Regions from separate parts of the Homo sapiens genome. Here region 2 is linked to region 1. The links come from fine-mapping of genetic effects on gene expression. Tissue or cell type: whole blood. Region 1 holds a variant in brackets; the other region holds the start of a gene. All regions are shown on one strand. Distances are between the middles of the regions.

What was found. PIP is the estimated chance that this variant, and not a neighbour inherited with it, causes the effect.
Region 2: PRAG1 starts here. The variant in region 1 is fine-mapped to the expression of PRAG1 in whole blood (INTERVAL, PIP 0.99).

Annotation. Positions count from the first base shown.
Region 1 is chr8:8,314,395-8,322,490 of GRCh38, forward strand. It overlaps PRAG1 (PEAK1 related, kinase-activating pseudokinase 1), which reads right to left. Exons shown (of 6, transcript NM_001080826.3): 6 at 3,342-4,908. The coding sequence ends at 3,760. LOC124901879 (a long non-coding RNA gene) reads left to right here and starts at 5,863. Exons shown (of 3, transcript XR_007060799.1): 1 at 5,863-5,923; 2 at 6,450-6,532; 3 at 7,425-7,499. The variant A/C (reference allele first, on the strand shown) is at 3,220.
Region 2 is chr8:8,382,889-8,390,991 of GRCh38, forward strand. PRAG1 (PEAK1 related, kinase-activating pseudokinase 1) reads right to left here and starts at 3,551. Exons shown (of 6, transcript NM_001080826.3): 1 at 3,433-3,551. It overlaps LOC105379222 (a long non-coding RNA gene), which reads left to right and starts at 6,676. Exons shown (of 3, transcript XR_002956679.2): 1 at 6,676-6,761; 2 at 7,299-7,374. RefSeq lists a silencer at 3,254-3,933.

The sequences.
Region 1 (8,096 bases):
AAATGGGAGATGAACTCACTGATAACAGGAGTATTAAATTGCCAGATCCTGCAACTGTCCTCGTACAAAAGTCCCTGATTATTTCTGAACCTCAGTCCTGCAGAACAAACTATCGTTTCTGGGCATAATGGATATCATGCTAGAGTCTTCTGTGAGACAAAGCCATGCAGCCTAGGTGTATTTTGAAGTAACAAAAAACCAGTTATATTGAACCTCTGAATTTAGTGCGAATGAAGTTGTTTGCTAAACCTAATATTTACAGCCACATGACTAATCATTTATGGAAAAGGCCAATCCACGGAGAGGAGTGAGTAGGCAAGCATTTCCAGAGAACTTGAGGAAACTAGATTTTAACACTCCATATTTAAACTTCACCAATGGTAGCGATAAAAAAATGCCCTATTGTATAGAGTACCCTTGATATAACAAACTCCATCTTAGAATAAGACTTCATTTTATGTTTCAGAGGGCACTTTGCCAACAAGGATAAGATGTTTTGTTTAATAAATAAAAAAGATAAAGATTGCATCCAATCAGATAAAGACACAAACAAGGACACTCGTCCAAGATCAGTTCTCACCAGAGGCCTCTGTGACTTTAAAATGTCAGGCCTTCAGCAGCTCGAAATGGGGCTGTCTTAACTGATACTGTCTTGCAGTCACTCATGATAAGAACTTGGCATCTGCTTCTGCCACCTCAAACACTTTTCCTTGCAAGACTGACCTGCTCCCACTGGACTGGTTCCTTAACCTTTCTCCTATCTCTTTCTCCTCTTCATGTTCAATGCTACTTTGTTTATTGTGGAATGTTTAATCTGTAATATATGTATATTGATTAAGCATACTATTATGTATGGTTTCCCATATTGACTGACTTGTGGAGTGGCTCAAGCCTGTGTGCCTGCGGCTCTGACTACCAAGAGAACAGGAGGTACTAAAGAGAATTGCTTCCTTGGGAACTCCATGTAGCCTCTGGCTTTTGTGACTGAATTAGCATCAATAAAAGCCTGACATTCTGGAAAGACACAAGCATGTGTGGACCTGGTTATTTTTAACCTGGCATCGCTCATGACACCTATGTTCAAAAAATTCTTTTTTTTTTTTTTTCTTTTTAAAACTGCTATTGGGGCATTATTCAATGTCTTCAAACAAAGAATCCTTGACAAATTTCCTTCAGAACCAAGCACTGGGCAAAAATTTCTTCCTTCTGACGAACTGTTTCCTAAAATTGCACACAAAAAAGAATTCTGCAACCAGTTTTCTTTTTATAGGTTGGTGGACAGCTCAGAAGTAAGTTTTATGTTTAATTGCTCTTATTCCTCTCATTCAGAATTTATTGCTATTGTTTCTTCTTTATCCTTTATTTTTTGGTTCATGTTGGTTCTTAGAACAGTTTTTACAACCTCATTTTTTTTTTCTGAAGTGGGTGGTATAAAAAAGTTGCAATTAATTCAGGAATTAAAAATGTGGCTCCTAAGACATTTCTTTCTTTCTTTCTTTCTCTCTCCTTCTTTCTTTCTTTCCCTTTCTTTTTTTCTCTTTCTTTCTCTTTTTTCCTTTATTTCTTTCTTTTTCTTTCTTTTCTTTTCTTCTCTTTCTTCTTTTTTTTGATAGAGTCTCACTCTTGTTACCCAAGCTGGAATGCAGTGGTATGATCTTGGCTCACCGTAACCTCCACCTCCTGGGTTCAAGTGATTCTCCTGCTTCAGCCTCCTGAGTAGCTGGGATTACAGGCATGCACACCCACCTAATTTTTGTATTTTTAGTAGAGACAGGGTTTCTCCATGTTGGCCAGGCTGGTCTCAAGCTCCTGACCTTAGGTGATTGACATGTCTTGGCCTCCCAAATTGCTGGGATTACAGGCATGAGCCACCACGCTGGGCCTTATTTTCTAATGGCACTGCATTCCCCTGTCAGAATATTTGCTCCTCCCTCTCCATTGTTTATTTACTTGAAGTGAAAAAGGACAAAAAAGCAAAAGACAGCAAATTGATGGCAGAAGGTTTGCCTGGAAAATTCCGAGGGACAAAGAAAGAACTGGCAAATAATGCCCCCCCGAAACAGATAGGTCCTGGGGAGAAATATGATTTCCACGTTTGCAGACTCCTTCTCTTGTACAAACGGGTTGGGAGCTGGTTTTGGTTCAGTTCTTTCCTCAATGCTCAGGAAACAATTGAAATTACAAATGCGCCCCAGGTGCTGTCTTCACCAACGATGCATGGAAAGATGAATGTGTTTACATGTAGTCAGGGGCTGGAAGGTGGAACTCACAAAAGGATTGAAATTAATATGCAGAAGAGGACCTGGGAGAGTTCCCTATCCTTCCTGCTAAGTGCATCCCCAGGTTTCTAAAACATCCATTCAGATCTTTGTATTTGTTTTAATTTGTCCAGAGTTATTCACAAGGTTTTAGAAATCAATTAGTTCTGTAGTTGGAAGATTACCCATTAGGTAGAAATACAAGAGTCTTGGGGCTATTTCTCTTCAAATAGGTAATTTTTGACTTTCGTGCCTGTGTCTAGTTTTGAGGAGGAAAGATCTGATGCCTCCTAATTTTCCTTGTGTGTTTTTAAAGGCATAGTAACAAACATTGACTCCAGTAAGCTGTAGGTGCCAATGGGTGCGTTAAATGAGGTTTTAGAAAAGGAGACTTGAAGGAGGCCCGAACAGCAGAGGGAGTACTGGCCTGGGAGTTGAAACACCTGAATTCTATGCTTGCCCTGCCAGTATCTAGTACGGTAGGAACAGTGGGCCGTTTGCCACCTGGCGTCCCATGCATTCTCTCCCTCCTCCCTGCCCCAGGAGGCTGATCCTCCAGACTGCATCACCCAAGGTCCCTTGCTGTCTGGCATCCTATTAGGTTGGAGATGACAGATGGGAAACAGAGACTCCCATCTCCGGCTGTAGAGATCTCAGCGCGAATACCTCCTGTATGTTCCCCTGTCCTGCTGTTCTGGCCCTTGCTTTTGGCCTTGTCACCCTTTGTTCTCATAACCCTGATCACACCTAGCTAAGTGGTCCCCTTAAGTTCTTTTCATCTGAGCCATCTGGGGTGGACTCTGTTTTCAGGCACGTCTCTGAATTTTACAAATGGCAACCAGCTTTAGCAAACTGGAAATGGGTTTGAATTCCAAACCACTGGGATCACAGCGGCTGTGTCTGGATTCTTTCCAGAAGGCTGCCAGGTGGGAAGAGAAACAGGGAAGATGAATTGGTACCC[A/C]CTTGCCTGGTCCTTTGCAGACTGCTGCTCTATCTCCTGAAAAGCGTTAAGACCAAAGACAGCTCCGTTTTACCCACCAAACATATTAATACACTCAGGCACTTAAGGATAAAGAGCTTTGCTCATGACTCAACCAAAAAAAATTTTAATGGAATTTTCTTCTTTTTTTTTTTTCTTTAAATAACAATTTGACAAAAGGGTGAAGAAATCCTAAACAAGGTATTGAGGCCAGTGTCCAGGCTGCATTCAGTTCACAGAACTGTCCTCAGGACGTTGCATGGAACTGGAAATGTGTATAATTACAGAAGAAAACAGGGAGGACTTAGTGCAGAGAGGAGACGAGTGTGGACGGGCAACAGCATCCTTAGTCTTTCATATTTATATATGGTATATGTATTTTCTATATATATATTTATATATTTTACATCCAGGTATCCCAGTCATCTGTACCATTTCCCAGGGAGACATGGGTGCTTCCAAGGCGAGACAGGAAAGGGTTAGGCAGGGAAGGGGCAGCGACGGTGCAGGCTGGGGCTTGGCTCACAGAAGCTGCAGGAGCTTCAGCGACTGTAAGAGGGCCCCGGGCTCCGCAGACGCCAGGTACTGGCAGCAAAGCCAGTCCTCCAGCTCCACGCCCCGCCTGCGATCCACCGCCTTCTCCGCAAACTTCATCATCATCAGGGCCCGCTTCATGTCGATCCAGTTGTGCAGCGTGCCGCACAGCGCCTCCTCCGAGGTGCCCGGCTGCTGCACCAGCTCGCGCCGAGGCCCCCACAGCAGGCACTGCAGCACGCGCTTGGCCTCGCCGATGCGGATACGCTTGATGGGGTCGGCCTCCAGTAGCAGATGTGCCAGCTGCTGCAGGCCGGGTGAGTAGAGGGACAGCGCGGGCAGCGGCGGCAGGTCCTCCTGCCGGTAGTCTCTCTCCCGCAGCTGGGCGCGCACCTCGAACGGGTTGGGTTGGTGCAGCAGCTCGTAGATGAGGATGCCTGTCTGGAACTCATCGAACTTGCGGTACTGGGAAGCAGACACGATCTCGGGGGCCAGCCGGGCCTGGCTCTTCTTCTGCTGCAGGTTTGGGGTGCCGCCCGGCTTCTGCTTGGCCTTCAAAAAGTTGCTGATGATGAGCCGGGGCAGCTGCTTCTCCCGGGGCCCTTCCGGGGAGGCGGGGCCGGCTGCGGGGCTGAGAGTGCCACCAGCAGGCGGGGCGGCAGAGGAGCAGGGAGGCGCGGCGGCGGCGGGGGCGGGAGCCGGGGCGGGGGCGGGGGCGGGCCCGGGGCCGGCCTGGAGGGTGCAGTGCACCAGCAGCAGGTTCTCCAGGCACAGGTCCCGGTGGATGATCCCGTGCTCCTTCAGGTGCTCCAGCCCGTTGCAGAGTTGCAGAAGCAGGAAGCACACGCGCCGCTCGTACGCCTCGGGCTCCGCCTGGTGGCTGGCCGCCGAGTCCCGCACGAAGTCGGAGGCGGTCTGATGTGGCACCTCTCGGGTGATGACCACCACGCAGTCCTGCTCCTGGGCAGGGGGGTGTGTGGGCAGGGCAGGCACAGGGTCCTTGGGCGCGTCGGGGGAGCTGAGCATGCTGGACGGCACCGAGGCGACGAAGTGGCCGCAGTCCTGCTGGATGTTAAAGTGCACGGGCACGGACGGGCTGCAGTAGGAGACTGTTTTGGGCTCAGGGGCTTTGCAGATCTGTGGAGAGAAGAAGAAGTGAAATCAAGAGTGGGGCCCATGGTTCCGCCCAGCAAAGAGTGTGGAAACATTTGAGTATCTACGTGCAATAAGCCTATCCACATAGGCTTAAGGGTAAGAGCAATCCATACACATGCTAGAAGAAAACATGGGACAGAATCTTTGAGGCCTTGGGTTGGGCAAAGATTTCTTAAATATCACACCAATAGCATAGTTCACAAAAGAAAAGAAAAATCACAAACTTAACCTCAAAGTTCTAAACTTTTGTGCTTCAAAAGACACCATTAAGAAAGTGGAAAGACAAGTAATAGACTGGGAGAAAATATCTGCCAAAATGTATGTAATAAAGGACTTGTTTCTGGAATTTGTATTAAAAAACACTCTTTTACAACTCAGTAAGACAAACAGCCCAATTAAAAAAGGATACAGAATCATGGCATGGAGGAAAAAACAAACAAACAAACAAAAAAACGTGGGCAAGAGATATGAATAGGTAATTCACCAAAAAAATTTGTAAATGGCCACAAGCATGTGAAAAGATGCTGGACATCATTATTCATCAGGCAAGTGCAAATCAAAACCACAGTGAGATATCAGTTCACGCCCACTAGAATGGGTTCTAATAAAAGACAATTCCAAGTGTCTATGAGGATGAGCAGAAATGGGAAACCTCAGACATTGCTGATGGGAATGTAAAATGGGGCAGACCCCTTGGAGCAGTTTGTTAGTTTCTTAAAAAGTTAAACATAAAATGACCATATGACCCAGTGAGTGGGGTCCCTGCCGAGCAACACACAGTGTGGTCGGGAGGTATTGGTAGGAAGACATCCCTCTGTGCACAGTATGGACAAATTCTCAAGAAGGCAAATAGTGTTTATAAGAAAGCAGCCTCACTTCCCACATACTTTTCCTTCAAGGTGAGTCACAGCAGCTGAAAGAAACCAGAAAGCTCTCCAAGGAAGAAGGAACCAGAAGGAACCCTCAGAGGAACCCCAGGGCACCATCTGAGATGAAGGTAGGAAAAACAAGATGGAAGGTCTCAGGCTTCTCTGTGGGAAGCATAGCTGGGGATCCACACAACTCTGTCTTTCTCGCCTCCTCCATTTCTTCTTGTACAAATGGCAGTGCCAGCCACCTGGGGATCTCTAGCAATCCTAGTCCTCATCTGGCTGCCACTCAACTAGAGAGTCTTGAACCAGCCGTAATGGCCCTCTGTCAGGCCTCAATCTCCCTGTCATTACCCTGAAAGGGACTGAAGTCCCCTCTCTCAAATGAATATTATGCAACCTCACCCAGGCTTTGTAGAAAGACAAAGATCAATGTGTAATGTAGAAAGACAAAGATCAGATGTGAGAAGAAAGGCATCTCACATCTACCTATAAAATATTATCCTGCAAACACTCCTAAAATAACCCTGCCTTCAGGCTGCAGTGTTGGAATGATGATGAAGCAGTGTTTTTGAAGTACCTCAATGCTTACAGGCGATACTTTTAGAAGTTCTACTGCAAGCACCTTTTCACGGAGATTTATTTATATTGCAGCTATGCAAAGCTTCTCAGCATGAAACCTGGCATACAAGAGCTTGGCCTCCAAGAGATGTTTTTAAAGCTAATTGTCGGGAATGGTGGGTAACACATTAATTTAGTAATCTGTCTATTATAAAAGCAGAATGGTAATAAAAAGGAAAGACATTTACCCCAGACATTGCTTCCTATTACACTAACAAAAATGATTTTGAAATACATGCCTAAAAGGCATTGTTCAGGCTCTTTCTTATTCCGGACTACCCAACTCTACTCGGTTTTTATTTTTTACTTTTTGAGACAGGCTGGAGTGCAGTGGTGCAATCACAGCTCACTGCGGTTTTGACCTCCCAGGTTTAAGCGATCCTCCCACCTCAGCCTCCCGAGTAGCTGGGACTAGAGGTGTGCACCACCATGTCCAACTAATTTTTGGAATTTTTGTACAGACAAGGTTTTGCCATGTTGCCCAGGCTGGTCTTGAACTCCTGGGCTCAAGTGATCCTCCCACCTCGGCCTCCCAAAGTGCTGGGATTACTCGCGTGAACCACGGTGCCTGGCCTGCACTTGGTTTTTAAATGGCAGGCTTCTGGAGCACTATTAAACTAAAGGAAATTTGCAGCAATGGTGGTGGGGGAAGTCCTCAAAGAAAGCATCTTGCATATACGCTGTGTTGTCAGTGGAGATGTGGGAGGACATCACTGTTATTGTCTCACCCCTAACAGATTACAGACTGGGCTCTTGCATGTGCAAGTACTGTGCCAACTGTGAGGGTTCCATGCAGCATCTCATTCAATCTCATTAAATCCAAGGAGGAAGATGCTATTACAGAGGAGGAAACTGGGGCTTCCAGAAGTTAAATTATTTGCTCAGGACTATACAACCGAGAAGTGTTGCAGAGGTCAAAAGCATGGGCTCTGGAGTGAAAAAAGGCCTGGGTTTAAGTATTAGCTCTGTAACCTTTGTCAAGTTACAGGGGATTTTCATTATTTGCAGGAGTTATGTTCTGTGAAGAAGCCATAAACACTGAATTAGTGAATAGTGAACCGTTTTTCCTAGGGGAAATACAAGGTAAGTTTCCTGGGAACCTCTGGTCACAATATTTTCATTAACCCACCAGTATTCAACCTTGTTTCATGTATGCTTCTGTTTAGAGATACCTTGTTTAACATACCTTGTTGAGTCATTAAGAGGAACTCACGGGCAACAGCACTAGAGCTCATCCCTGAAAAATGCTTATCTAACACATATGTTTTTACCCATGAGGCACATCCCAGCCTTGTGGTGGTTAGGAACACTAGACAGCACTTCAGCCCTATGCTTCGGCCATTTTATTTTATATATATAGTTTTGTTTTGTTTTGTTTTGTTTTGTTTTTGAGATGGAGTCTCTCTGTCGCCCAGGCTGGAGTGCAGTGGCACGATCTCGGCTCACTGCAATGTCTGCCTCCCGGGTTCAAGCGATTCTTCTGCCTCAGCCTCCTGAGTAGCTGGGATTACAGGTGCCTGCCACCACACTCGACTAAATTTTTGTATTTTTAGTAGAGACAGGGTTTCACCATGTTGCCCAGGCTGGTCTCGAACTCCTGACCTCAGGTGATCCAGCTTGGGCCATTTTAAACAGCAAAATCACCAACATGTAAACCCAAAAATAAAATTCTAAGGCCCT
Region 2 (8,103 bases), 68 kb after region 1:
GCCAACTTTGCAGGCGGCTCCTCCCTGCAGTGGTGATTTGCGCATTGCTCCTGGCTCTTCTTAGCCTATTTAAAATAAACTGACTTCCCATAAGGAGAATGTTCAAGAGCAAAATCTTCCTTAAGAACATAAGGGTGAATAGGTTCTCATTAAATAGGGACCATTTTGCCTTAGGGTTTTCTCTCCACTTTCCTCCCATAAGGATCTGCCTTAAGTTTGATAATCTCTAAACTGTCAACAGGACTAACCAGGTGGAATGAGCCGGGTACCCCAAAAATCATTCCAGAGTGTTTGTGGGAAGTGCTCTCTTTTATCTCCACACTCATAGACAGGGGTGTTCATTCAACAAGTGCTGAAGCTACGTGTGCCTCTTTTCCCTCCAAAGTGAAAAATGGGTTGAGGCCAGGCGCGGTGGCTCACGCCTGTAATCCCAGCACTTTGGGAGGCCGAGGCAGGACGATCGCTTGAGCCCAGGAGTTTGAGACCAGCCTGGGTAACACAGAGACACTCTGTCTTTACAAAGATAATAATTATTTAAAAAAACTATCCAGGTGTAGCCATGCATGCCTGTGGTCCCAGCTACTTGGGAGGCTGAGGTAGGAGGACTGCCTGAGCCCAGGAGGTCAAGGCTGCAGTGAGCCATGATCACACCACTGCACTCCAGCCTGGGTGACTAGAGTGAGACCCTGTCTAAAAAAACAAAAAAAAAGTTAAGAATAAAGCCCACTGCATCTTTAAGCTAAATAAATCCTCTGAAATAAAAGAAAAGTATCTTTTAGCAGTTATTGTTAGGGTCTCACAGGTCCTTTTCTTTAAGAAGACTGTTAGCTAGGTTCTTCTCCTCCTCCAAATACACCCAAGTAGCAGGTTCCTTCTTTGCCAAGTTCTCCAGAAGAGGTCACTGGGCTTCAACAAGCGGAGGAAATAGCCAGGTTTTGTCTTTCTCTTATAATCTCAGGCCACAGAGAACTGTAGCCTTGCTGCTAAGTTTTGGGAGGGGGAAAAAGCAGAGGAAGTATTCCAGCCTTCAGGAATAGGCAGTAGGTCCCTTCCTGGGACGCTGATGGGTGAAGACTGTCTACACCTTCTAGGCCACAGAAAGGACACTGTCCAGCCCACCTCCACTGCAGGCAGATGCTCCCATGCCTGCTCCGCGGGATGGAGGAAGACAGTTTGGAAACCAGCTCTGTGTGGGCTCTGCAAGTTCCCACAGCTCCTCCTGACACTGGGCTATCTGAGGAGGTGGGTGCCCAACCACTTCCTCAGGGTCTATCACAGATTCACAAAGCAGCAGTTCTGCTTGGCGACTTATTGCCTCCTCAACAGGCAAGTAAGAACACAAACTTGTTTTTGCGGAAGGGGTGACATTGGTATCAGAGGCCCTACTTTCTAAGATTCCCCAACCTTTGCACAGCCCTGTGCAAAGGGAGTGTGGAAGGATCTGGATTGCTAGCGTGGGGGAAGTTTCCTTGAGAATGTCTCATCAGTTTACGAGCACTCTTTGCTCCCATTCTCAGCTCAGAAATCCTTGGATGTTTAGAGAGGCAACTTTCATCACACGACTGCCAGGGACGGATGGACGCAAAGATTTTTAAAGGGAAGTCATTGAATAAGAAAAGAACAAATGAAGCCCTGGGCTTCCCACTGTCATTGACTCACTGCATCCTGTTAAAACTGGTTTCTCAGTCGCAGCAAACAGAATTTACCACCGCATGCAGCCAAAAAAAAAAAAAAAAAAAAAAAACCTCTTTTCCCGTTGCACTTCTGTGCCTGGAATTATCTCCTATTTGTTTTAAGTAAAAGATGGTGAGAAACACAAGTGGCACCCACAAAGCCTTGCCTCGCCTTGCCTGGTGCAGCAGTGCCAGCTCTCCACAGCATGGGGAAGGCACTTCGCAGCCCACATTCCTTACTTCTGAGGGGAGGCAGCCCCCAGAATTATGCAAATCCTCCCCATTTCAGTAGGAGGCTGCAGTGTCAGATTAGAAAAAAGAGCTCAGCATTCTTTCTGATCCAAGTCATGAAAAAAATGTCTTTGCCTCTGCAAACTTCTGCACTAGATTTGTGGCTACAGTTTGCAAGACTGAAGCTGTCAGATACACTCCCACCCCATTTCAAAAAAGAATCTGAAGAATCAAGGTGGCCAGATCTTTAAGATTAAATATTTTGGCCCAAAATACCCCCTCAGACTTACATCAGAAGTTGCTTATGCCTTATTCTGAAGTGACAGAATTGCAGAAAACATTCACCTAAAATTTTTTTCTGTATGTTACAGTTAAATTAATGCAACGCCAGTAAAAGGAAAGAAATATGTGTGGAAAGTGTCTGAACTTCAGCACACTCCACTGGCCAGGGCTGACCAGGCAGAAAGGAGAAAGTGACAACTTTACCACCCACTAGCCCCCTGCCTCCCTACTCACGCAGAGGGTAAATTACGATATTCACCCAACTTTTCCTTTTCTTTTTTCTTCCTCCAGTGCTGGAGGAAAGAAAATCTCAGAGGGAGGAATGTGGTTTTGCACCCACTACAGTCGAAACCAACCAGACCTCAGGAGAGAAAAATAACTGCGGAATTCCCTAGGGCTTTCTGTCAAATTTTCTTCTCAGAAAGGGAAGGGGAGAGGAGTTGTTAAGAATAGTTCAGGCCAGTGATCAGGAAAGCCTTCTGAGCCTGACTCCGCACTGAATGCATCGCCAAAACTCCTCGCCCCTAGACCATTGGGCTTTGCTATCGGCTCTGCAAAACCATGTGCAGGGAGAGCTTACCTGAGAGAAACGCACACACCGTGAGCTGGCGCTCTCCGCTGCGAATGCCCGGCCGCCTCCATGCCCAGCAGAGGATTCTATGTTCTAAGTGTGTGTGTCCCCGGATACCAGCAAAGGTTAATAACGTGCTCACAGCATGCGTTTCAGAGGGCTCAGCCAGGGCTCGGGGAAAAGGGCATCATCTCGTTGCCTCTGGAGCCCCGCTGCTGCATACCCTGCACCCCCAAACCATCCCCCCGGGTCCTGGTCCCAGCAGCCAGGCGGCCTTCCGTCTCTCCCCCTTGACAATACTCTAGCGGTGGAAAGCAGTCCTCAAAGCGCTTCAGCCTCCGGCCGCAGACAGAGCAGCAAGACCAGAGAAACCATCCTAACAGTCGGTCCTCCCTCCTGGAACTCGTAGGAAAGTTTCCCCGTTTTAAAGAGCGCGATTCTCGAATGAATCAAAAACACCCTCCAGCTCCTCGGTCCTCCCGGCCGGGCGCCTCCCTGCACCTCGGGCACCACCCGGGGCTCACGCGGCCCCGGCACTGCCCACTTCCCGAGCGGTCGCCTGTCACCCCGGGGGTAGCCCGCTCGGCGATCGCAGCGCCCCTCCAAAGCTCCCCTCTGCGACCACGCTCGCCAGACAAAAAGAGGCCGAATTTGGAGAGCGCGTCGCGGGCTCACCTCTGGGCTGCGCTCCCCCGGCCCCTCCGTCGGTCTCCGAGCCGCCAGCCGCCCGGCCGGAGCATTGTTCGCAGAAGGTCTGCGCGCGGTGCGTGCCCGGCCGCGGGCGGGTGGCTTCTGCCTGGGCCCGGCGGCCGGGTGGCAGCTGTGAGCGCGGCTCCGCCCCCTCCGCCTCCGGTGACGCCGCCCGCCCCAGCTCACGCCGCACCTCCGCAGTCCCTGCCGCCGCCCGGCCCCGCCTGGCCCGCGCGCCCCGCCGCCCGGCTTGCGCCTGCCGCTCCCACCCGGCGGTCTCCTACCCCCAGGGCCCCGACTCCTCCAAAGTCTCCAGGCCCCGGGACTCCCTCTCTTGCCCACCCTCCCGCCCCGGACCGGCAGGCTCCGCCCCCAGCCCCAGACTTGGCGCGGGCTGACCCCCGAGCCCAGCACCCGTTTGCACCCCCTCCTCGGTGGGGACCCTGCACAGCTCTGGAGGGGCGAGCTCTGGCGTTGCAATCCTCCTTTTGCCATCATGCGTGTATAGGTGCCCGGCATCACTTCATCCAGCCGGCCCTGCGGGACCCTGGGAAGAGAGGGAGAAGGAAGGGGAAACGAGGAAGTGTGGGGTCGGGAGTGGAATACAGGTCAGGGTCCGAGGCGGGCTCTGAAAGCCACGTGAGCACAGCGAGCCTCAGCTCTCCCTACCTCTGGGAAGAGGGTGGCGCCGGAGGGAGCAGGGCTGGAAGTCCCGGTGGCGGATTCCAGGTTCCGCTCAGTCCCTGGACTGCAGGATTCTGGCAAATTGCTTAACCTCTTTGAACTTTAGTTTTCTGGATGTAGAATGCAAGCGTTGCACTGCAGGGACCTGGCCTTCTACCATGCTGGGACATCCAAGTCTTCCGCAGGCCAGTAATACACCTGTGTTTACACCGTTTCCAGTGAGTCATTCACTGAGATAGAACGAGTTCGAGATAGTCCTCGGGCTAAAAAAATCTTTTCACTGGGAGTATAATAGCTTAAGACCCAGTCAGTCCTGTAGCTTGACCTGGGTGTTTACTCGGGGAGCCAGGGCTATGGTCACCTCCCAGGGCCATGCCGGGTGGGAAGAATTCAGTGAAATGGAATAGGAAGAGGACCCCCCTCCCCCACAAAACAATACCTGCGGCTTCTCTCGCCCTCTATCCCCTCCCCAGGAAGGCAGTTTATTTTGACTCCAGTGAAGGTCCTCTGCCAGTCAGCCTGCGAGCCCCCACCCACTGAGAGGAGGAAGATGGGCCCCCACCCCCACCCCCAGATCCCTGGCTCTCCTCTTTGCTGCTGTGGGTGTGGACAGAGAGGGAAGATGTGTATTTGAGGTTTGGCTTCTGTGTGAGGAAAGGGAAAAAAGGATCCAGGGAATTCTTCCTCATGTTCCAGTGACACCCATGCCTCCTAAGAGGACAGAATCTGGGGGAAGCTGTAGAGGGATGGGAGTGCAATGGACATTCCTTAAGGACCTACCCAGCGCTAAGCAATCCTATGAGGAGAGCATCATTATCCCCATTCTACAGATAAGAAAACTGAGGCTCGGGGGCCTCACAATTTGCTGGGGTTCCTCAGCTGAAAAGTGGTAGTACTAAGATTGGAACCAAAGGCTGTCTGGCTTCGCTGGTAGGCAAGTCTACTCTGCCACTCTGCCCTTGCCAAGTGCAGGTAGTCCAGCCCTATTTTTCTCTCTCCCCTAAGTGGAGAGAAATCATTTGAACAAATACTGGCCGTGCGCGGTGGCTCACACCTGTAATCCCAGCATTTTGGGAGGCCGAGGCTGGCAGATCACCTGAGGCCAGGAGTTCAAGAACAGCCTGGGCAATGTGGTATAACCTCATCTCTACTAAAAATACAAAAATTAGTCGAGTGTGGTGGTGGGCGCCTGTAATCCCGGCTACTCAGGAGGCTGAGGCAGGAGACTCACATGAGCCAGGGAGGTGGAGGTTGCAGTGAGCTGAGATCGCACCACTACACTCCAGCTTGGGTATCAGAGCAAGACCCTGTCTCAAAAAAAAAAAAAAAAAAAAAAGGAAGGGAAACTTTGGTTACACTTCATGAGCATCCAACAGAGCTGAAAGATCCAGACCCTACCAAGACTCAAGAGGGGAAGATGTTGATTAAACAGGTAGGTACAAAGTGGTCTGCAATGGAGAAATACAAAAGTGACTTCAGAAAGTGTGCAATTCATTTACACTGGGAGAGGGCAAACTAAGATGTTTGAGAAGTTCCTGGTTCTCAGGATTCAGGCTAAATGTTTCACTTCTTTCCTCTGTAAGAGAGACATTGACCTCACAGAATAAAGGCTGTGCTGAACACATAAAAGAAGCACTTACTTTTGCACTTTATTTTCTTCTCTTTACCTAACTTATTCTTTTTTTTTTTTTTCCTGGGATGGAGTTTCATCTTTCAATCAGGCTGGAGTGAAGTGGCAAGATCTTGTCTCACTGCAGCCTCCACTCCCCGGGTTCAAGCCATTCTCCTGCCTCAGCCTCCTGAGTAGCTGGGATTGCAGGCGGCCACCACCATGCCCTGCTAATTTTTCTATTTTTAGTAGAGACAGCATTTCACCATGTTGGGCCAGGCTGGTCTTGAACTCCTGACCTCAAGTTATCTGCCTGCCTCGGCCTCCCAAAGTGCTAGGATTACAGGTGTGAGCCACCGCGCCCGGCCCCTAATTTATTCTTAATACATGAACAGGCTAAAGAGCATAATTATAAGAGAAAGCCATAATGTGGCAAGACTTGTAGTTCTGTGGCATGGGGCAGTACTTGAAGGGTAAATTCAGTGTGTCTACAAAATAAAGTGTGTTCTTAAGTGGTTTGCTGTGCTCACACAAAGTAAATGCATTATACTGTAGTTGCTGACATATAATGTGCATCTTTTTAAAAGCCAGCAACATGGCCATAGAGACGACTTCATCTTGCCTAATGAAAAGAATCAAGAAACACTTCAAAGGAGTCACTGGGATGCACATAAAATACCCACACTCTTAGGCAGTGCTCTACCAGTGACTGTTAAGTATATGATATCCTCAGTCAAGCTACGGTAAGCTCATTCATTTTCATAAAGAATTCTTGCTTGAACTTCCAAACTGTACCCTGCAATGCAGTGTAATTTGTGTAGACACAGCATTCTGCTTCTAGCTACTTATCAGTCCATTTTTATGACACTTTTAACTGCAGGGCGTGGGCTCCCTGATACAGACCAGACCTTGAAGAACAGCAATTCCTCGTCAGAGTTTTAGTCCAGCGGCACCATTCCGTACAAGAGCAGTTATATTTTAGGAAACTGGGACAAGAGGTCAAGGCTGGGAGTGCTTCGGGGTGAGTAAAGTAAGGTAGTTTGGAATTAGGCAAAATGGCAGGATTAGGAAGGATGTGCCATTAAATTATACTGCAAAAATACAAGCTGGGGTATTGGAGAGGGGTCAGATAGTATGAAGATTGAGCCAAAGAAATCCCACACATATTATCTCCTCAGCCAGAGCATACATCTCAAATAATAGAGACATGCATCTCACCTAAAAGCGAGAACGATATTCAGTTTTCTCAACGAATATGTATTGAGTGACTTCTACTTATAAGCACTGCATGAGGTCCTACTGGGAAAAGAAAGACGAGTAAGAGCAAAAAAAAAAAAAAATAAGCTCTATGAGAGGAAGATAAGTCGGGGCAGTGGGGGTTCAAGGGAGAAACAGACAGAAGAAACACAGAAAGTGGCTCTATAGAGGAGGGGAGCTTTAGAAGATGAGAACGATTTCAATCTGTGGAGGATGGGGACTTTCCAGACTGAGACAATGTTATCTGCAAATGAATGGACGTGGGAGAGGCGGAAGACTTTTCAGAGGTTTTGCATTCTAGACTGGCTGGATCATGGTTTTTGGAGACAGGCCTGGAAATGGAGTGTGGCACTAGAAGAGAAGAACTTCGTTTCCAGGTGAGCCATCAAGAAAGTGTTGACATTTCCGAGCAGCAGAATGACATCACTAAGGTGGTTTTTCATTAGCTTTCTCTGGATCTTGTATCCCAGATGGATTAGGAAGTGGGAGAAGAGATTGGAGACAAGGAGTCTGGCTTAGCGTTCCTATCCCTGGTCCAGATGGCAGTTGATGTGTTTTGATAAGGAACATGGCAAGGGAAACAGAAAGAATGGATGGTGTGTGTGGTTTTGAGAGACATGAAGAGGGAGAAATGGGGATTGGTTACTTCGTGGATTCACTGTGAGCAATAATCTATTAACGAATAAAGCCTTACATTATGGAGCACTTACTCAGCATCACGCCCTGTGTGATCAGTGATGTACCTGGCTTTTCTCATGTAAGCCTCGCAGAAACACAGGAGTAGGTGCTATTACTGACAGAGAGGAAGGAATCAAAGGTGACCAGTAGAGTTTTAGCCCCTAGAGACCGGTAGAATGATGGTATCATTATTACAAACGGGAAAGTCACAGAATTCAGTCTGTGGTCTGTTGGGTTGGAAGTGTGTAGCCACCGTTTGGTGAATGAAGTCATCCTGCCAGAAGTGGTGTTTGGAGCCCCCAGAACAAATGAAGGGGTTGCAGGAGTATTGTGAAGAAGGCGCAAAAGTGATAGGAAGAGGCCAAGAATTGGGGGACCCAGGAATACAGAAGAGGCCATAAGAAAAACAAGAAGCATGACCCCTTCCC